Regions from separate parts of the Homo sapiens genome. Here region 1 is linked to region 2. A link means that fine-mapping ties the variant in region 2 to the expression of a gene that starts in the linked region. Tissue or cell type: whole blood. Region 2 holds a variant in brackets; the other region holds the start of a gene. All regions are shown on one strand. Distances are from middle to middle.

Evidence for each region. PIP is the estimated chance that this variant, and not a neighbour inherited with it, causes the effect.
Region 1: it holds the start of PMEPA1, and the variant in region 2 is fine-mapped to the expression of PMEPA1 in whole blood (TOPMed, PIP above 0.99).

What each region holds. Positions count from the first base shown.
Region 1 is chr20:57,705,730-57,716,402 of GRCh38, reverse strand. It overlaps PMEPA1 (prostate transmembrane protein, androgen induced 1), which reads left to right and starts at 6,388. Exons shown (of 4, transcript NM_020182.5): 1 at 6,388-6,929. The coding sequence starts at 6,821. NKILA (NF-kappaB interacting lncRNA) reads right to left here and starts at 6,220. Exons shown (of 1, transcript NR_131157.1): 1 at 3,623-6,220. RefSeq lists enhancers at 815-1,343, 3,723-4,334, 7,395-8,006 and silencers at 5,987-6,106, 6,127-6,556.
Region 2 is chr20:57,675,119-57,685,791 of GRCh38, reverse strand. The region is part of intron 1 of PMEPA1 (prostate transmembrane protein, androgen induced 1); the gene reads left to right. Among named protein-coding and RNA genes, the nearest start is that of PMEPA1, 30 kb to the left of the region's middle. RefSeq lists enhancers at 3,326-3,826, 4,136-4,185, 4,276-4,335, 4,746-4,855, 5,236-5,305 and 5 more and a silencer at 3,754-3,917. The variant G/A (reference allele first, on the strand shown) is at 5,450.

The DNA of each region.
Region 1 (10,673 bases), 31 kb before region 2:
CTTTCTGAAAGTGTTTCAGACATGAGTTAAACATCTGGAATCTTCCATTCCCCTCTCAAGCTCAACCTGTGGTAGAAAAGTCTGTGTATTAAGCTATTTAAGGTAACCAAAGACCCTGCAGGGCCTGGGCTGCTGTCAGGCACTGAATGGATCCTAGCTCAGCTCTGCCTTTCACTGGCACCTTGAATCTTCTCCAAGTCATGGCCCTCTCTGGGCCTCAGTTTACCCATCTGTCAGAAGACAAAATTGGCTCTAATGTTCCCTTCTGTCCTCTCCTTCTGCCCACCCTTGTCTCCCTGCCTGGCTTCCAAAGCCCTCTCTTCTCGGGAAGAATTCAGTTCCCTGCTGGAATTGAAAAATTGGACAGAAGAGAATGGGATGGCACCCCGGGATGGAGGTGGGGGTGTCATCTGTGGCCAATTTAGCCGAGCATCTTTGGATTGCTGTTGGAGAACTCAACCATCTGACATTTGTCCAGCAGCAAAGCTCCTGTATATTTGTACAGCAGCGAAGCTCCTGTATCAGCGCCTAAACACACACAACACAACCAAGAAAATGCGAGAACACATGCAGATGCACGCACAACACACACATACCCTCATAGCACAAATACTCACATGCGTACCCCAAACATATGTACAATACAACGTGCACCCTCAAACCCTCAACACAGACGACACACACCACACACACACAAATACCCCACAGCGTGAATATGCACATGTACGTCCTGCATATACATGCAACGCACACCCACAAGCTCACAGTGGAGACCACACATGCACAACACGTCTTTCTGGCTGAGACTTCTGGTTCTGGTTGATACCATGCAAACGCTCCTTGCTCTTCTTGGTAGGTGCTAGCCCAGGTGACTGGCTTCTGGATACTCAGCTGCAAGAGGATACTTGGAGGTGGAGAGGGTGAGTGAGCGGGAAGACTTGTTAGCCAGTCATGAAGGCAGCCAAAAATGGGATTTGGATGTGTTTGTGGGTAGGTGTCCCTCCTGCATTTAGTCCACAGAGGTTTGCCAAGCACCCACTGCAGGCCAGACCCCAAGCAAGGCATGCCAGACTGGCCTGCCCCCTGGAGCAGTGGAGGGGATGGTGAACTCACAGACACCGAGTCCAGGGGCCGCTGGGCCCTGTGCTGAGGCCTCCCCACACTGCCTCTCCCTCACTGTGAAATCCCGCTCCTCCCTGTTTAGTGGCAGAGGGGACGCAGGTTCAGTGAGCTGAAGCAGCCTGCCAAGGCTGCCCACGCCAGACCCAGAGCAGGTGCTGGAGTGGCCTCTCACCAACCCAGCCGCTCCAGCCTCACTCCGCTGCAGAGTCAGCTGCCCCTCATGGTCGGAGATGAGGTTTTATGAACAGACACCACCAGCGGTGAGGCAAATGGTGGATCCCCGGGGGCCTCCGTGGAGCTGAGGGGGACGGCGCCAACCGAGTCCAGTGGGACGGCCAGGGGGACGGCGCCAACCAAGTCCAGTGGGACGGCCAGGGGGACGGTGCCAACCGAGTCCAGTGGGACGGCCAGGGGCACAGTGCCAACCGAGTCCAGTGGGACGGCCAGGGAGGACCCAGTCAAAGGCAGTGAGGAGGGAGACAGGGTGCAGAAGGCATCATTTGCTGAGGCCAGCCCATGGGCTTTAGGGCCCAAGTACCTGATTCACATCCCAGCTCCACCTCATCCTTGGGTCCCTGAGCCTCAGTGTCCCCATCTGTCAAATGGGAATAATATCAGCTTGGACCTCAGAGGGTTGTCGTGGGGATCCAGTGAGCTCATTTCTGGCTCTCCGTAGGATCCCAATGCATATTTGTGGAATGACTAAGTGGAAGAATGTGAAGTGGTTAGAACAGGGCCTGGCATGGCACATGGGCAGTGCCCAATAAACATTGGCTCTTACTAGTGTTTAAAAGTAAAACAAGACAAAAAAAATGAAATCCAAAGTTGCTAACCTGTGAAAGTTGACAGCCCCAATTAACCCCAACCTGAGGAAGAAAATGACCCTGCTGGACGGTGTTTCCAAAGGTGCTAAGTTGGGAGGGGAGGTCATTAATCTGCCTAAGGTTTCCCAAGACTAATTCTGCAGAGGCAGCTCCGTCCAGGCAGGCCGGGGGTGGCAGGCAGACAGGGGCACGGCTGGCCCTGAGGAGGGCCTCTGCCTTGTCCCCTCAACCGGCTCCCCAAGCAGGACTTTTGTTGGCTCAGTCAGGCACTTTCCACAGTGGCCAGCCACCCTCGGCCAGCGGGCACAGTCAGAACACTGCCAGCCACCCTCAGCTGTGGCCAAAACCCACACTGACTTCCATGGGGTCCCAACTGGCTGCCAGTGTGGGCCTGGCATCTGAGCAGGACTGGTTACAGATTTGCAGGCCCCCGTGTTCAGAAACTGTTAACTATTAGGAATTTCACGATGTCAACAGTAGAAAAAATTAAACTAAAAAATAAATAAATAAAATAATACAATAAACCCCCGACCCTTCAGAGCATGGGGCCCTGGAGAGTGCAGGGGGGTCACACTCCCACGAAGCTGGCTCTGCACACAAGTCCAGCAGAGCACAGATGCGCGGCGCTGCTGGGAGCAAAGCCCCTTAACCTGCTGAAACAGGACGTTTCCTCTGGAAAATCCCCCCGGCCGCGGATTCAACCCATGGGCAGGGCGGATGGTGGCACACGCTGTCTGGAGTCCCAGAAAGGCCTGTCTCTGCAGTCACCCATTTCACAATCCATTTGCTTCACACACCCATTTCACAACCCCATGGCCACAGCCAGGCTGAGAAATGTGTCCCAAACTCCAAACCTGCTGGGACCATGAGAGTCTCCCAGTTCCTGATGCCCCCACTGGCCTGGCATCCCCTCTCTACTGTCCCCTACATGCCCAGCCCACATCTCCCCAGAGAGGAGGCCCAACCCTTTGGGCTCAAGTCGCCTCCAAACCCTCTCCTTTTATATTCTTCCCAGGTCTCGTCCCTCTCTGAAATTATCACCTGGACTCATCTTTTTACACATGTGATGTCAGCCTCACCTGTGAGCCTCAGTATGGCTGGGGCTGCACCTGTGGGTGGTTGGTAACTGCAGGTGGAATGAGATGCCACCTCCTCAGGGAGGGCTTCCTTGATCTCACCCCAACTCTGGCCTTTGGCCTGTTATCACCATGTCTGAAATGACCTCCTGACCTCATTGAGCTATGAGTTTGCATGTGTGTGTGTGTCTTTAGTCCCTTTGTCCCCCACAATGTCACACGAGGTCAGGGAGTTGGTTTTCTTCCCAGCCCTGTGCCCCATACCCAGCACAGAGCTTCACACTGAATAGGAGCAGAATGTTTGTTCAATGAGTGAACAAAACCTTTTTTTTTTTGCCTCTGACTTGTGGCATTCTTCCCAGGGACTCAGGCCTGCCCAATCGCGGTGCCCCCTCCCCACTCCCACTCCCAGCAGTGAGCCCTCCCTCCTCAGCCCATTAACACCTTGGCTCTGCCCATTTCTCCTGGGTAGAATCAGGGAGTTGTGACCTTCTCTGCCTGTGCCTGACAGTGGGCTCTGCCCTTCATGCCCAAAATGCCAGCATCACAGTCCCTGGCACATCTAGGGTTATCAGATTTCGCAAAGAAAAATACAAGCTATCCAGTTAAATTGAGATATACTTACACTAATCATTATTCATAGTTTATCTGAAATTCAAACTGAACTGGGTGTCCTGTATTTAATTCTCGCAGTCCTGGGCACACACGAAGCCTCCTATGAGTGCTGGCAGTCCAGCCTATGCTCCTTCCAAAGCAATTCTCCTTTCCTACTGCCCCGTCAGGGGCCCTGTCTGTGCTGGAATCATCATTGTCCTCAACTGCAAAATGGAAAATAAAATGATAGTGGTTCCTCCCTCCCGGGGTTGCCAAGATGATTAAATAACATAACAACTAAGATGTATCCGGCCCCTTCTCCTCTACTTGCAAGGCATCGATCCCTTCATTCCTCGCAATCACACCACGTGAAGGTGCCATGAAGCCACCCCATTTTGCAGAAGAGGAAACTGAGGTTGGAGAGGTGAAAGCACTCAGCCGAGGTCACACAGCTATGTCCCACTCATCTTTGGGTGACCCTCAGGTTCGGACCCTGAGGTCTGAACACTGCATTAAGCTCTCCAGACAGAATCAACTTCGGAACTAGCGCCAGAGACCACTAAGTCAATCCCAGGTGACACCATCAGCACTCAATAAATGGTAGCCACTGCCGGTGTCGCAGATGGATCAATGGGAGGTCAAGCGTTGTGGGTAGGTTTGGTTTCTTTAAGCCACTGAATTAACTGGTTATTTTTGCCTGCTGGCAGTGCAGCCTCCATTGTGTAAATGCCATCTCACTTCCAAGACAATCAACGTGTGACTTCTCCCAGCCAGACTAGCCAGGTCTCCCGAGACTTCCCGGAGGGCAGGGGCTGTGTCTGGAGTGGCTGAATTCCCCGGCTCAGGGTTGCAGCTCAGCCAGTTTGTTGATTGAATGAATGAAGAAATGGCTGAAAGCAGGGGTGGTAATGATGACCTCCTTCACCCTAGGAAGTGAATGGGACCCAGGTCATCTCCAGGCCCAGCCAGTATTTGCAGTGGCACCCCAAGGGATGCTGGGGGACCCCTTAGCTTTTCTCTTAAGTTGCAGCGGCCAAACTGCAGCAATATCTTCCCTGATAAAAGACACGCTGGTGGTATTGCCCCTTCCTCAAGGCAGGGGCTGAGGGCGCCCAGTTCACAGCAGGGTGCCATCTGGGGTAGACGCTGGGTATTGCCCCACTCCTGGGCCGGGGCCTGGGTCCTGACCTAGTGCTGGCTGTGGCTCCAAGAGTGAGCTTCTCCTCCCAAACAGAAGACGGTCAGTGCCTCTGAACCTCCCTCTGGGCTGGGCACGCTTGGACTCCTCCAAAGAGCTTGGACCAGCCTGAGCCACATCCCTGGGCTTGACTTCTCCAGAACAAGCCTCCTGGTCTTTCTGGGAGAGCTCTGGCAGCATCACTGTGCCTGTGCAGGGAGAGCGGGAACCCACTTCCTGCACCGGCTTTCTCTGAGTTCTTCAGGATGAATTCGCTCTGGTCTAGGTAAGTTCTACCCCGAGGCCACCTTCACTTCCCAAATTCCAGCTTTTCCTTCTCTATCCAAACTGTTACAAACACAGTAACAATAATTTTTAAAAGCTTTTTTTTTCTCTGAACACACTAAGTCCCTGCTAATTACTGAAACTCCAGGCATTACAGGAATATGTGGACACTTAAAGAATCAGGACTACGTGGGAGAGGGGGAGGCAGCTCCCCAGGGTCCTGGGTTGGCACACAGGCTCCACCACTGTGTGACTTTCAACAAGCGACTTCCTTGACCAGCTGCCCGCTCTGTAAAATGGGGAGAGTAATATTCGGCCACACTGAGTCGGTGTCAGGTTGAGTTAATATTTGGAGAGTTTCTGGCACAGGTAGGTGCTCCTTAAGTGCCTGTTAAATAAGTGAAGCTTTGAGAAAGTGTCTAAAAGGCGACACACTAAATTTTTAAGAGGCTGGAGGTGGGCCAGGGAGGGGAGGTCTCTTATGTAATATTTTAATATCTTTTTAAACCTGAAGAATGTGTTCTTGTAGCACTCCTGTAATTAAAACTTAATGAACTAAAAGTACACCCCTCCTGCTCATACCCCTTTTGAACTCCGCAGCCGCGCCCCCCAGCCGGAGGCCCCTTGGGCAGCAGACAATGGGTGTGGATTCGCCCCAGGTCCCGCCGGCTGGGGCGGCGACAATACACCAGTCCCCGACAGCTATTTACATGACAAGGGCTTCCGGGCGTGTCTACGCGAGTTCCCGTCTTTCCTGGTCGTCCTCCTTGGGTTCGGGTGAAAGCGCTTGGGGGTTCAGTGGGCCATGATCCCCGAGCTGCTGGAGAACTGAAGGCGGACAGTCTCCTGCGAAACCAGGCAATGGGTGATCCATCTTGGGGGCTTCCTCCCCCTTTCTCCAATTTCTCTTCCCTGAGCCCCCAGGGACCTTGTGCTCCTCAGAAGATAGGCTAGCCCCAAGAGCCTGGGTCAAGGACCCCAGGGACGGGGGCGAGGGGAGGGCGCACCAGCAACCCGCCCGGGTGCGGCTGGCACCGAGTTCGGCTCCCCGGCCCCGGGCGTGCGCCGGGCAGGCGTTCCAAGCTGACCGCCGTTGGGGAGAGGGCACAGCGCCCCTCCTCCGTTGCGCGGGTGCCGGGTCTACGTGGGCCGCCTAGCTCTGGCCCTTTAAGAGCCCGCCCCGTTTCCCGTCACCCCGCCCCCCGGCTCGGGGAGGGGGTGCGGGGGAACCTCGGCGGGGATTGGCGCAGCGCGCGCCCCCTCCCCGGCCCCCGCGCGGTGGGAACCGGCAGCCCCGTCTAGCGCTGACGTCAGACCGTCTGCCTGCCTCCGACCGCGGTCTCGGAGCGAAACCCGATCTCCTTGGACTTGAATGAGGAGGAGGAGGCGGCGGCGGCGGCGGCGGCGGAGGCGCTCGGCTGGGGAAAGCTAGCGGCAGAGGCTCAGCCCCGGCGGCAGCGCGCGCCCCGCTGCCAGCCCATTTTCCGGACGCCACCCGCGGGCACTGCCGACGCCCCCGGGGCTGCCGAGGGGAGGCCGGGGGGGCGCAGCGGAGCGCGGTCCCGCGCACTGAGCCCCGCGGCGCCCCGGGAACTTGGCGGCGACCCGAGCCCGGCGAGCCGGGGCGCGCCTCCCCCGCCGCGCGCCTCCTGCATGCGGGGCCCCAGCTCCGGGCGCCGGCCGGAGCCCCCCCCGGCCGCCCCCGAGCCCCCCGCGCCCCGCGCCGCGCCGCCGCGCCGTCCATGCACCGCTTGATGGGGGTCAACAGCACCGCCGCCGCCGCCGCCGGGCAGCCCAATGTCTCCTGCACGTGCAACTGCAAACGCTCTTTGTTCCAGAGCATGGAGATCAGTGAGTGACCCCACGCCCCCCTCCCCGGAGACTCCATCGGGCTCGGACCCTATGTCGGGGCACAGCTGCGAGCGGGGGTCCGGGCCCTGCGCGCCCCCTCGGACCGAACGCCCTGCGCCCGGGCAGCGCCCGCCGCGCCCCGGGCGCGCCCTCCCGGCTCGCGGCAGCTGGCGGCCGGCCCGGCTTTGTCCCGCGGCGCTGCGAGCCTGGCACGGCCCCCGCTGTCCGCGCCCCGCCCGCCCGGACTCGGACCCGGGGCTCAGCGGCGGCGCACGGCGCGGGAGGGTTGGGGCGGGCGGATCCGTGAAGTTTCCATTTTATTTCCCTGAGGGCAGTCGCGATGGAGCATTTAGGCCGGCTCTTTATCAACTTTGGGCGGGGGTGGAGGGGCGTGTGAGACACTGTCTGGTCTGCGAGGTGTCTGGGGCTCCGGGCGTGTGTCTGGAGTGTTCGCGGCGCTGTGTCTCGGGCTCTGAGTGGATGTCCGTGCGTCTGTGGAGTGTGCGTGGCTGCGTGGCTCTGTCTGGGTCTTCGGCGTCTCTCGGGGTGTCTGGGGGTCTGAGTCGCGGTCTTGCCCAAGAGTGCGTGTCACCGAGTCTTCCTGCCTCTCTCTGTGTGTCTTTCCCGTGTCCGGGCCGGGGTGCCTTTCTTGAGCGTGTCCATCTTTCTGGGGGTCTGGTCTGGTTGGGCCGGATCTGGGGACCGTGTGTGTCCAGGTGTCTGAATCCAGGGCTCAGCTCTGGCCCGTCTGGCCCAGCGTGGATCTTGAATGTGTGTGTGTCATTGTGCCAGTGTCTGTGTCCCCGACGCACCTATAAATAGCCTCTGTCTGGACAGCTTGGTTCAGTCTGGCTGAGACCATGGTTACAAAGGAGTCAAAGTTTGGGGCTGTTTGTGTTTGGGACTGCCTGGCCCTAAATAAGGGATCAGTGGACCAACGGTGGGGAGTGGGGTTTTGAACCTTGTCGCTAACGCAGCCGCCTGGGCACCCAAAAGTTCAGATAAGTAAGTCTCTACCTCCTGCACACACAGCCCACCTAGGTGGACATTTGGTTGAGTGGAGAATTGAACCACTACCTCCCGGGTTCTGGCTTCTAGCTTCTAGCCTACACCTTGTCCCCCAGCCCACCTTTTCGGGGACCTTTTGCTTCCCTGAGCTTTAGTTTCCCCATCCCCACCCTGAAGAAGCACGCCAGGTGAAGGGGCACACAGTCCTTCCCTGCTGGGGGCCAGGCTGCCCCTAGCTGGGGCCCGGAGCTGAGAAGCAGCCGCTGTGGAATGAAGGCAGTGTCTGGGCGGCTCATAAGCAAGTGTCCGCAGGCGGCTGCCAGTTTGTGGCCCCTGAGCCTATACAGTGAGCTTCAAGTGGTAAAAATAACCAGGCTGGCCGGGCTTTGGTGGTGGGTCCTTCCATCCATCCACCTCTCCACACTCCCTCCCAGCCTGGAATGGAAAGCTCTCCCCCTACCCCACCTTAGCTGGCCTGTGCCAGACTAGCGAGGTGCCAGGAGGACCTGCCCAGAGCCAGCGTTTGCGGAACCGACTTGCCTTCCCAGAGGCCCTTTGTGAACTCAGGAGGCTAATGAAATGCACGAGAATGTTATTAAAATACGTTCGCACACGTTTGGAGAGTCTTGCCTTAGATGGATTGCTGCTTCAGTGCCCTCCTTGCCTCACTTTTTGCCTTTCGCTCTGTAAAGCTGCCTTGAGGACCTCCTGCTCGAGGGGCACACATCCTTGTGTCACCCTTATTCCAAGGGCTGGGCACAGTGCATCATTTTGCTCTTGTCTCTCTTTATGGTTCAGGACTTAAAAAAAAAAAAAAAAAGCATTGTTCTTATTTCTGTCCTTTCTTAGGCTCATCAGTCCATGATGTTTTTGACCTGACATCAAGGCCTCTTGTTAAATGCCTTGCCGCCGCCCTCTGCACTTTGCCCCGCCGCCGCCAGCAGCCTTTGAGTGATTGGGACCCTTGGGGTTAATACCTGGAACCCTAGCCTGTTCCAGCTGGCCCCTGGGTGCCCCAGTTAGTCCTGTGTTCTGTGTATACACAGCCCCCTACTTATTGGAAGAAAGCTGCAAGGCACGGAGGGAACCAACCAGTCTTTAAAATGCAGGTATACTGTAACAGTTTGTTTTCATCAGATTTCCCCGAGAGACTAGGGTGAGGAAGTGGTAAGGCCTGGTGTCTCCTGGAGTTTCTTTACACCAAAAGATAGGAAGGAAGGAGGGAAGGAAAAAAGAAAGGAAAAAAGCTAGTATTTGGTTTTTCTTTTAACTAGTAGTGGCTGCTGTTTTTCATCTAGTACATGCTGGGAGTTGTTTGCAACGAGAACTTGATGGATGGTTTGGAGTTGGGCTTTGAGGCAGTGTCCAAGTGGCTCCTATCCTGTAAGATACCTTCTTTTGGCAGAAGGAAATTGACCTTGCTAGGTCCTTAAGCCATGATGGGCCTCACTGTCTTCATCTGAAGAATGAGGCCGTGATGGATGAAATCTAGAATTCTATAGTCTTTCAAGATAGGGCCTCTCCCCTGCTGAGCCTGGCTGGAGGTCTTCAGGCTGGACCGGGCTTCCCACCCACTGCTGGTTCCCCTGTGTGGTCTTCAGCTACCCCAAATTTCAGACCTGAGAGGAGCCTACGCAAGCTCGGGGTTCACATCCCTGACTTACAGATGAGGAAAGTCCACCGTGGAAAGTTTTGCCCGAGGTCCAAAACCCACACCAGCCCCAGGCCAGGGTGGTTTCTCTTGGACTGCACGCCCACACCTCTTGAATTTGGTACTTGGGCCCCAGAGCAGGTCCTCCTTGAAATTGGGGGCTGGGGGAAATTGTCAGAGCCCCTTTGTACGCCGGGAGCCACGTCTGCTCTCAGGATGCTGAATGGAGTGGGCTTGACTGTAACAGGACACTCCTGGGGCCCCATTTTTTCTGAGAGTCGAGGGATGAGGCTGCTGTCTGGTGGGAATTCAGTGTTCCCAAAACATACCCGTGGGAAAACCCTTTCTTTTAAAAAGCCAAGGGTCCTGGGATTAAAAGCAGGCAGCACGAGTGACAGCCTTGCAGATGTCAGCCTGGAGCTTGAAGCGGCTACTTTTGAGGAAAGGACTCCTGGCACCTGGTTTTCCTGGCAACCTCATCTACCTCATTTCAGTTCTGCTGCGTCTCAGAGATTACCCCCGGTCTTTCTCCTCTGGTTATTGCCTCAAACTTCTGGGGCCCAGATGGATGCTAAGTTCGCTCTCGGGAAAGACTGAACCTGGGGCCACCCGGTGTCTGCTCACGCGGGAGGCGTTTCCTGAGAGTTCTGGGAGGTGCCCCTGCCCTGGGCCCATCTCTGGTGGTATCTACGGTGGCAGCTGTCTTTTTAACATCACCCACTGGCCAGAGTCACCGAGCCTCTGATTCTTCTTCTCCAACCTTTTCCAAACAAATATGAGAAAATATCAGAAACTCACAGGACACCCAGGTTTCCCTGGGCTTGCCTGGCACATGCTGTTTGACACTTGCTTGAATCAAGTGAGGGTGTAGAGACAGTGCCTTGGCACTGTGACATTCTGAGCCCGGTAATTCTTTGTTGGGGGGCAGGAAAGGCCGTCCTGTGCTCTGTAAGGTGTTACCAGCACCCCTCTCCCACACCCACTAGATACCAGCACCCCTCTCCCAGGTTTGACAGCCAGAAATGTCTCCAGACATGGTCAAATGCCCCCTACTGAGACCACTGTTTAATCAGTTAGTGGTTTCT
Region 2 (10,673 bases):
GAACAGTGCTACAACAAAATTGCTGCTACTAGGTGTTAGAGACATCTTAGCAGGCGCCTTCCCAGAACAAGAAGAGCCAGAATTATTTGCTGGGCGGCCACGTACAGTCCTATTTTAAGAGCGACCTGGAGGGCAGCCCAATCACAGATGATGGTTTCTAGTTCTCTGGAGCAGCCAGCCCCCTCCCCCCAGCCAGTCCACCAGCAGACCCCAAACCAGACCGATAACTTAGCATTTTCATTTAAGTCCATCTGACAAATCGTTTTAGGCCGAGAAAGCAATACTGCATCTTTAAATGGCTACTTTGTCAGCGCGTCTCTGTGCGCTGTAAAAAGTCCTTTGTTATCTGTGTCTAGACAGCACGCCAGCGGAATATTTGGTCTGCGTGAGGGGAGAGAGATCTGACAAGGTTGAATTCATTTACCGGCTTATTTAAAGCGGGATTTCAAAACACTTGCTCATAAACTGTTTTCGGCCCAGACTCCCCGGCCTCCTCCTAGCCCACACTGGCTTTTCTTGCTTTTATAATTTTTCACCTGCTCGGGCAGTTAGCTGGAGGTTGCAGCCGGGTGGGTACCCTGGCGAGGAGAGTGACTGCGGCTTGCAGCTTTTTTCTTTTTTTAATTGTCCTCTTTATGACTGTCTAGACGTTCTGCAGATGCACGTTCTCGGGGGAAATGGCTTTTCCCTCTGGTTACAGTACTTGGGAGGGTTGCAGACGGCACCCCCTCCAACCGTTTGACCACCCAGCCCCCTTTCTAAAACCCCTCAGCCATTCTTCCTCTCCTTAAATGAAGGCACTTTGCCTCCTGGCAGCATCTTTGTGTTTATAACACATTTACTTGACTGTGCTAATTTTATACCATCATCGAAAAAGGAAAAGTGACATTCCAGGTTTTCTTCTCTCTGAGGGGTGGGCAGAGACCCCCCCCTCCCAGCTCCTCCCCACAACTTCCCCCATTTCTTCTTACAGCTCCTCCTTTTGTGGCAATGTTTTGTTTTGTGGCATGCCTACATGCCTAGACAAATAAAACACCAGAGGTTGGCTTCTTAAGGATGAAAATATCAGGGCTAGTTGAATGCGTCCGAGGTTTTAGTTCTGCCAAATAGATGCATTAATTAACCTCATTGCCATAGCGACTAGGTCATTGTTACCGCAGTGAAAAACTGGCAAGCTATGGGGGTGGAGGGTCTCCCGGGCCCCCCAATCACCCATCACCCGCCCAACAGGAACCGGTGCAGAGGCCAAATAGGCATCGTCCTGCCAGCAACCAGAAAGTGGTCCCACTTTGGCTCCTTCAGACTCTGCAGTGGGTGGTGGGGGCGGTTCTCAGAGCCCCCCTCCTTCTTAGGCAGCTACACAGCCCAGTGGACTTGGGAAATTCAGTTGACTTCCAGGCCCGCTACATGTTCAGGTCAGGAGGGAAGCAGGCTTCCGAGTTCCCTTCTGGAGCGAGGGCTGCGGGGTGGAGAGAAGTCACCCTGCCCCCCTCCCAGCTAGACCCCTAACTCCCCGACCCCCACCCGTGAAAACTATTGTCATTACCATTGACCTGCTGCAAAGCCATAAATTTCCACCCGCCTCCCCTCCCGCAGTCATCAATCTGCCCTCCGGTTTTTACTTGGTAGGGGGCACAAAAGCTGGGGAGGGGGAGTCAGGCGTGGGCAGCTGACCAGATGTCTCCTGGGATCCCTAAACTGCGTCTCATTTCTGCCAGATGAAGCGAGTCTAACCTATCAGCCTACTTGACTGCGGTGTTGCGGAGCCGGGGGTGGGGCGTGGTGGGACATTTCGTCTGCAGGAGATAGAGAAGGACATCCCATAACACTCCAGGTTTCTTGGCCAGATCTTTTTATTTCTACCCCCAAAACAGACAGCCCACAGGCAGGAGTGGTCTGTTGAGCAGCTACTCCCATTGTGCCCCGCATGGGTTTATGATGGACTTTGTGCAGGTGGCTGGACAGTGTGCTTCGGAGGCCGAGAACTCCAAGAACTCTGAGAGCTGCTGGGCTCTAGTCCTTCCCTCTTGGTGGCAGCCTGGAAGCCTGTAAATTTCCCCGCGGAGTGGGGAAGTGGGGTGACTGTGCTTGTAATATTTCAAGTTATACAGTCATTCGGGGGTTCTTTCTGCTCTCTCATAATTACAGCATCTTTAAGAAGAAATATCAACATGAAGTATTTTCAGGGGAAGAGACTTTTAAAAGAAACACACACACACACACACACACACACACACGCACACAGGCCAGAACACCACCACCGAGTTAGTATAGTAATGCAAGTTCGTAATGCATGCAGGGCTGCTCGCTCCAGGAAGCTCCCAAGCAGGAATGTTCCTGAAGGATGGGCTATTAAATATTGGATCCTCAGGCTGGCAGATGCGTCTGCGCTGTAATTGGGTCTTTCCTGGAGTAATTAAAGGAAAATGATTATATTAACCCAAGTCACCAGGCCAGCATGGCATAGAGAACTGAATGGCAACAGTATTGATGTTTCCCTCCAAAAACTGGCCTCTCTCAGCACATCAAAAACGCACCCTTGGCTTGAGTTTAGGGAGCTTTCCTTTCTTTGCACTTTTTATAATTGATCGCGTGTCTCCTGGCCTTCTTTTTCTTTTTAAAAAGCAGTGGGGGATATCCGTGCCCTCTAACGTGAGCAGCCTCTACCTGCTCAGGGAGATCTGAGCTTAAGGACAAGTGTGGCGTAAATGCCCCCGGAGACTGCGGCGTGAGAGATGACATTGAAAAAGGTCTGGCTTTTAGAGCTCAAACCTGGGAGGCTTGGACTCTTTTTTCTTCTTCTTCTCCTTTTCTGAAGAGTTGGAGAAGCCGGAGTTTCAAGACCGTCTTGGTGTGCTGCCTTATTTAGGAGGCGAGCTGCTGCTCATTTGTCAGGCAAAACAGATGTGGTGGGGAGACAACATCTATTTTCATAATTCGAAACAAATCTGGCGAGCCGCCTTCCTTTTCAGCGGGGCCTGCTCATGCAGAAAGCCCAGCTCCCAGGCAGCATCTAGCAGAAATATTTATAGCTCATCCATTGAACTTTCCTTCCTCCAGGAGGAGTTGGTTTCTGCTGGCGATGGGGACACAGACTTGACAGGGAGTGGGTGCTGTTTCAGGGATTTTTTTTAAATCAAAAACTGGAGGAGTGTGGGTCACAGCCAGCGACGCAGCTGTGCCTCTCCTTCTCGTGTCCTTTCGTCTTCCAGGTGTGGGGCGGTGGGCACGGGAGCCTGCTCTGTAGCATTCAGCAGCCTCTTTACTGGGAGGGCAGTTAAAGGCTGACTTTGAAACTCCTCTGGGCCGGCGCCTAGGACCCCGACACTCCAGGGAGACCCAGAACCTGGGCCCCTAGTTACCAGTGACTTTGTGCTTAGGTATGCAAGGGCAGCGGGCTGTCATTTCCCCATTTTATGGATGAAACCACCGAGGCTCAGAGAACAGCTTGCCCAAGGTCACACAGGGAACCGCTGGTGGAGCTGGTCCCCCGCTCTGAGCACCATTCACACTCAGCTCAAGCCTTCATTCCCACTGGGAGCCTTTGCTACGCCGTCACCTCCCATCGAAGGTAGCTGTGTCTGTCTGTGTGTAATAGTGACCTAAGGAAGGAGGACAGACCCGGTATTTGGGCGAATCACCCATCTTCTGTTCATTTATCCAGTAGGTGAGCTCCTTCCCTGTGCCACTGGAGATGGGAGGACCTGGTGAATGGAACAGGCCTGAGCCTGCCCTCAGGGAGCTACTAGTCTGGTGCAGATGGGAAACAGAGTCAGATACTGAACGGAGGAGGAGATTCGACAGTGTCACATGACTGTGCCTGGGGGCTGCTTTATTGGTCTGAGAGGGTCTCTCAGCAGGGCTGACCTTGTGCTGAGAATGAGGGATGAGAAGGAGTCAGCGGTGGGAAGACCTTGGGGGGAGTACCTCAGGCAGAGAGGAGAAGCCGAGAGGGTGAGGTCTGCTAAGCTAGGTGTGGTGGCCATGTCCAGTTCCCAGCTGGCCGTGTCACCTTGAGGGGGGACTGACCAGGTTGCAGTTCCTTCTTCTGTAAAATGAGGGGGTGACTAAAGCGTACACAAGTTCTGATTCTGGGAAAACCACAGAGAATCGAGTTTTGTAAGGTGCTGCCAGCAGGGGAGGAGGTGGAGGGTACGTGGAGAGCTCTATTATTGCTTACAGAATTGAACGTGAAACGACAATGGTTGCTAAATTAAAAAGTTGGTTATTTTAAGCAGTGAAAGGTCTGGGAGGGCCGTTCCCTTCTTGATGCTGGGACCACCCTTGTAAGAGGCAGCGCCACACCATCCTCACGGTCGTCTCAGGCAGGGGACACCCTAGAGAGGTCTCTCGCTGTCACCCGCAGATGGCAGAAGTGGGACTGGCTCCGGGGCAACCCCTGGTTGCCTCGCACAGGGCTCCCTCCCTGGCAGGAAGGAGGCCCATGCAGGGTGAGGGTGCCCTCAGGAGCTCAGGCAGGCGGCAGGTTTGGAGGGACGGGGGTTCCCAGTGGCAGTGATGGAGGGGTGTTTCTCATTCCCCACTGCCGTGATTCCATGCAAGTGGATGGAGCGTGCTGGAGAGGTCAGGAAGGAGCATGGGCGCCTGCCTCACCCCTGCCCCACCAGCACTCAGGCAGGCCTCACAAATCACAATGGGCCCTGTCCCTGGTAGCACCCAGGGTTGATGAATGGGGACTCCCAGGCCCTGGGGCACTTGGAAATCCCTCATGCAAAAGGTGGAAACTAGAAGTTGTCCTGCAGATTGACATTCTCAGAACTCCTTCCCTCCCTTCCTCACTGACCCGGCCCCGACCCGTGGGATGATTTTCATTCTCCTGCCTCCAGAGAAGGACCTGTGCTTACGTCCTCACGCAGACTGCTCTCCGCCACTTTCCCTCACCCATGTATTCATTTCACAAGCATTTACGAAGTGCCTCCTGTGTGTCTGGCATGGTGGTTGGTGCCAGTGTGCGTTGATCGGTGATCAAGGTGGTTGCGACTCCAGCCTACAGAAATGTACAATCCAAGTGTGAAATGAACAACTGCCCTTTCCTAAGCGTTTGCTTTCAAAGCAGATGTTTTTAGACTAAGTTGTTGTTATTCTTCAAACCGGTTGTGTGTGGTTTCAGTCCCTGCTTCTGTCTTCACATTGAGGCCTAATTAGGAATCAGCTGTTGCCTAGCTAATGTTTATTGAGCAAGCACTATGCACCCGGCACTGTGCCTGAGATATTCACTATCATCTGATTTAATCCAGAGTTTCTCGACCTTGGTGCTGACGTTTGGGCTCAATAATTCTTTTCTGTGGGGGACTTCCCTGTGCGTGGCAGGGTGGATGTTTAGCTACTTCCCCTCGCCCACTGGATGCTAGTAACACCCCCTCCCAGTTGTGGCAACCACAAGTGTTTCCAGATATGGCCAGATGTCCCCTGGGGCAAAATCATCTCC[G/A]GTAGAAGAACCACACCTTAGCCCTAGCAGCTGCCCTTGAGGTCCCAGTCCCTTCATCTGCAGAATGCGGGTGTTGACGGGACTCCCCAAAGCGGCTCCTTGGGAGCTTTGAATGATATAATGCACTTAAAGCTCTTAGCACAACCCAGCTAAAGCTGGAGTGGCTGCAGCTCTCCCCGCTGGTGTGTCTGAGTGTCTGACGGGCAGAAGTCGTTTTTACCATCCACTCATCCCCCGACGGTTCCCTGGGGCTTGCAGTGCAAGCCAGACTCCATGCCACAAGCTAGGCTCACCTTGCAAAGATGGTCAAGGTCACAGCCATTGTGACCCTCACTCCCACCAGGGATGCCTGCGTGGACAGCCTGTACCCAAGGAACTGGAAGGCGCAGGCTCTGGCTCTAGCCAGCTTTGCACGGTTGCTCTGTGTCTCTGGGCAACTCCCTCCCCCTCTCTGGCCCTGTCCTTTTCTCATCTGACCCATTTTAGGGGCTTCTAAGCCACTCTCCTCCCCTAGAAACTCAGTATCTAAGAGGGTGAGTTTTTTCCCAAGGTTTTCCCCTGGGTCGTTTACAATTCTGATCACTTAGGGATCTCTGAGCCACTCACAGTGCCAGGTGACCACCCCCTTCCAGCATAACAAATTCACCTATGTGGCTCCAGCAGTTGCTTTCACATCCTGGGCTTCATAATTGAACAAGTGGTTCCTTCACTAAGGAAGCGAGCGCCTGGTTGGAATCTGTTCATCCATAGCGGGCGCTTGTAAGTCCATTCCCTGCAGGTCCCGGAACCCGCCACTGAACGATGTCAATTTCAGCCTGTTGGACACGGCTCCCGCATTGTCTGAAAGGAGCTTCCCCAGCAGGTCTGATGTGTGCCGTGTTTGGAGAGTCACACTGGAAAATGATACCTGAATCGTTTCAAGTTCACGTTGTCTATGCTGCCTTTGCCCCAATACACACCCATGGCCACCTGCAGGAAGTCTCAGTGCAGCTTTGCCAAGCCCCAAAGCAGCTAGCTCCTCATTGTATCTTCATGCTATGCCCCAGGAGGTAGGGTTTCTTGCCCTTGAATGAGACAAAGGTTTCCTACCTCAGGGCATTTGCACTTGCCATTGTTTGGCCAGGAGTGTTTTTTCCCCAACTCTCCTCATATTTAAGGTCTCTGCTGAAAAGCCACCTCCTCCGAAAGGCTGTCCCTAACCAGATCATTTAAGGAGGTCCCCGCTCCTAGGTGCTCATTATCACAAACCTGCTCTAGTTCTGTTCCATGTTCTGGAGAAGACAGAGGAGGACTCTTCTTCAAAAACACTCGTGTTGTTCAGAGATCCCTGCAGTTCCTGGCTCTTCTGTGCCTGAAGTGCTCACTGGCAGAGACGTCCGCAGTTCTTCCTGAACAATATGTTGATACTTTACAGTGATGCTTTCTCTTGGGGGTACAGTGGTAGTTTGGGACATCCTTTTGGGAGTATTTGATTGTATTGGGGAGGCAGTGACACTTTACATCGGGGAATCCCAAGCTGCTCTCCCTCCCCTGGCTCTTGTCACCTTTAAGACAGAGGTTGGAGGTTCCATGCTTATTACTTGGGGCAGACAATAGGAGCCAGTGCTTCCAGATTACTTAAAATCTCCTTTCCTCGTTTCTAAATTTTAAATGACGTGTTTAGAATTTAATCTTCAAACCTGGGAGCCAGACCTGCAAGTGGAGAGATGACAGCCGAGAGATGGTTTCGTGTGGCTGCAGCAGCCAGATGGCAGATGCTGTGAGCGGGAGGCGAGGGAGGCTGCGAGAGAGGGAAGCGGCTTCTGTTTCGGCTCTTACCCTCCCTTTGCAGGAAACTAACCCCCTCCCCCAGTGCCAGGCCTGGGCCAGGCCCTAAGGACCGCTTAAGGCTGCTGGCCTCAGCCTCTGCCAGGGCGATTCTGGTGATGCCAAGGGACAGGGCACTCCCAGACCGTTCACTTGTTTTCAGAAAACTTTTTATTTTGAGACAATTGTTTGTTAGCATGCGGTTGTAAAAAATAATACAGAGAGGTTCTATGTAGATATCCTCCAGCTTCCCCCAATGGTACCGTCTTACATAACTGTAGTACAGTGCCAAAGCCAGCAGTTGACATTTGTCACAAACCATCAACCTTACCTTTCCCCAGTTTTACACACACTCATTCGAGTGTGTGTGTCTGTGTGTGTGTTTCGTTCAATGCAGTTTTATTGTATGCGTAGATTTGTGTAACCACCAGTCAAGACACAACAGTCCCATCACAAGAACATCTCATTCTACCCTTTTCTAACTGTATCCACCCCCTTACCCATGAAACCACTAATCTCTTCTCCATTTCTATAATATTGTTATTTTAAGCATGTTATAGAAATGGAGTCATACACTATCTAGCCTTTTGAAATTGGCTTTTTTCACTTAACGTAATTCTCTGAAGATGTCTCCACGTTGCTGTAGGTGTCAGTAGTTCATTCCTTCTTGTTGCTGCGTAGTGTTCCAAGGTATGAATGCACCATGGTTAGTTTAACCATTCACCTGTTGAGGGACATCTGGATTGCTTCCAGTTTTTTTTGTTTGTTTGTTTGTTTTTGCTATGAAAAGTAAAGCTGCCGTGAACACTCATGCACAGGTTTTTGTGTGAACATTAAGTCTTCATTTCTCTGGGATAAATGCCCAGGAGTGCAATTGCTGGGTCGGATGGGAGTTGCAGATTTAGTTTTTGAAAGACCCTTCAGTTTCCATTCACATCCATGCCCTCCTCTGGTCTCTGGCTTTGGTGGAAAGATGCGAGTGCTGGGGAATGGACATTTTGCAGAGATTCCTTCCTCTTTCACATGTTAATCGAGGGCCACTTCTTGTGTCAGGTGTGGTGTTAGCCCTCACGGATACAGCGCCAGGGTAAATAAGGGTCATCGAGGCGCTTTCTTGCTGGTGAGGTGCACTTGACAATGAACAAGCAAGCACTTAGAAAGAAGATGGTTTCTCATAGCAGCCAACACGTACTCAGTGCTTCCTACACACCAGGTGCTTTCTGGGTTCTTTACGATCCTCAAACAACCCAATGAGACGGGGCCATAGTTCACTCCATGGTACAGACAAGGAAGTGGAGACACACAGCTGCTCCCACAGCCAGAATAATCCATGCTCCTGACCATACTCTGCACTGCCCCTCGTGACCAAGACAGGCCACCAGGCGATGCAGAGTAAGAGAAGAGGTGAGAGCACATGTGGGATGACAGACCCAGGGCAAGTCTTCCCACAGACAAAACTGCATGTGCAAAGGCCTTGGGGTGGGAGCAGGCGAAAGGCCAGGCTGGCTGGCGCATGGTGAGCGAGGAAGGAGATGGGAAGTGCAGTGGTGAGGTGGGGTGGGCCTCGCAGGGTTTTAACCTGAGCATAGTGTGGGAAGTCAGAGACTTGATTTTTTTTAAAGATTGTTCCGGCTGCAGGGTGGAGAATAGACGGGGGGTGTGTTTGCAAGAGAGGAAGTAGGGAGACAAGGAGGCCACGTGGAGAAACCTTCTGCTCTTGAGGGATGAACGCCAAGGTTCTCTCTCCTCCTCCTTTGGCCACAGGGTCTCTGTGTGGGTGCTCAGCAGTGCAAGGAGGCCTCTCGTCATGGGGGGTCCAGCTCCCAGTGGCTCTCCCACAGCTCCGCCCCTCGAGGGCAGGAGAGCTGATCCCCAGCCAGTCGGCCCCTTGAGCCTCTGCAGCTGGACCGTGAGCTCCCATCTAGGTCTGTCTTCTGATGGATGTTTCTGGTTTCTTGAGTTTTCTCACCATTTCTCTTTCTTCCTCTTTTCGTACCAGTTGTGATTCTATAAATTGAATTTACCTGCTCAGTATCAGTCACTCCAGATCGTTAATAAACGTGCGCCTGACATCCTTGACGCATTCACCATGCTTGCCCGGTCAGCATGCATGCTTTGCCATGTCATGATGCCTGCTTTGCCATGTCATGATGATCACCATTTATTATGCACTTGCTGTGTACCAGCTAGCGTTCCGAGAGCTAGTACCTATGTCCCTGTTGAGTTCACCCTTAAGCAGTCCTGTGAGGCAGGTACTGTTGTTGATTCGTGCCTTACTGTGAAGAAGCTGAGGCAAGGGGCCAGGTCACCACAGACACCACACATACAGCAGGTGGCTGCATCTGGATTCGAATCCAGAGCCAGGCTCCCTGCCTTCCACAGCTTTGCTGTGTCCCCATCTCGACGCTCAGAGAAAAGACACCTCCGGAAGCTTCCCCTGCTGCCTTCGCAGAACAGTTGGTCAGAACCTCGTCTTCCCAGAATTTGGGATTTTCTGCTTCTGGAAGATGCTGCTTCGAAAGGAAGTGATAGCAAGGGCTGGAATAGCCTCGCCTGTGGGGCGGGGACAGGGAGAGGCGGCTGATGTCTGGGAGGCTTAGAACTTCCTTCTTGGAATCTGTTTTTCACGTTGCCTGAAAAAGAAAGAGGAAGAGACTCATACAGATGGAGACACAGGGAAAGACTCAACGGATTTAGACCCCAGACAGTCACACACCGGAGACAGACAGACAGACAGATGCCCCAGAGGAAAGGACACACCCCCAAACAATCAAAGGTGGGAGGCAGACACACAGACACCCTTGGACACGTTTGCTGCCCTGGAGCCCCCTCTCTAGCGAGGTCGCCCTTCCCATCTGAGCTCCTTCCCTCCTCAAGCTGCCGCTGGGCCCGGCAATCCATTCAGGGGCCGACTGTCAGTGTGGCCAGCAGCATTTCCTAGACCCTCCTCCCCCAAACCGGAAAACACTCGTAGCAAGGAATGCCCCGCCTGTGGGCCAGGGGTCTTCCTGGGCCTCTGAGCCCCACATGAAGGTGATGAGCCAAGCGCCAGGCTAGGGTCAGCAAGTTGGCATGGTTGGGGGGCACGTGGGTCATGATGGCAGTGACCTTCCAGCTCAGTCGGGCTCCTGACGGACTCAGGCCTTGCCTTTTGCTGCTTCCAAGAGGTCGGAGGAGGTGAAGGCATGGCTGCCGGTGGAGGGGTCGGGGCTGCTGGAGGCTGCTTTTCGGGGTGGGTACTTTGTTTTGAGTTTGTTGTCCACTCTTGTGACTAGTGAGAACAGATATCACAGCACCGGGCTCTGTGTCCCAGGCACAGGGAAAGTCTGGCCCTTGCCACCTGAACTTCTGTGACTTTTCTGGGCGGGACGGGTGGAGGGTGGGCGGTGACATTGTTGCACCTCTCCGAGCCTCAGAT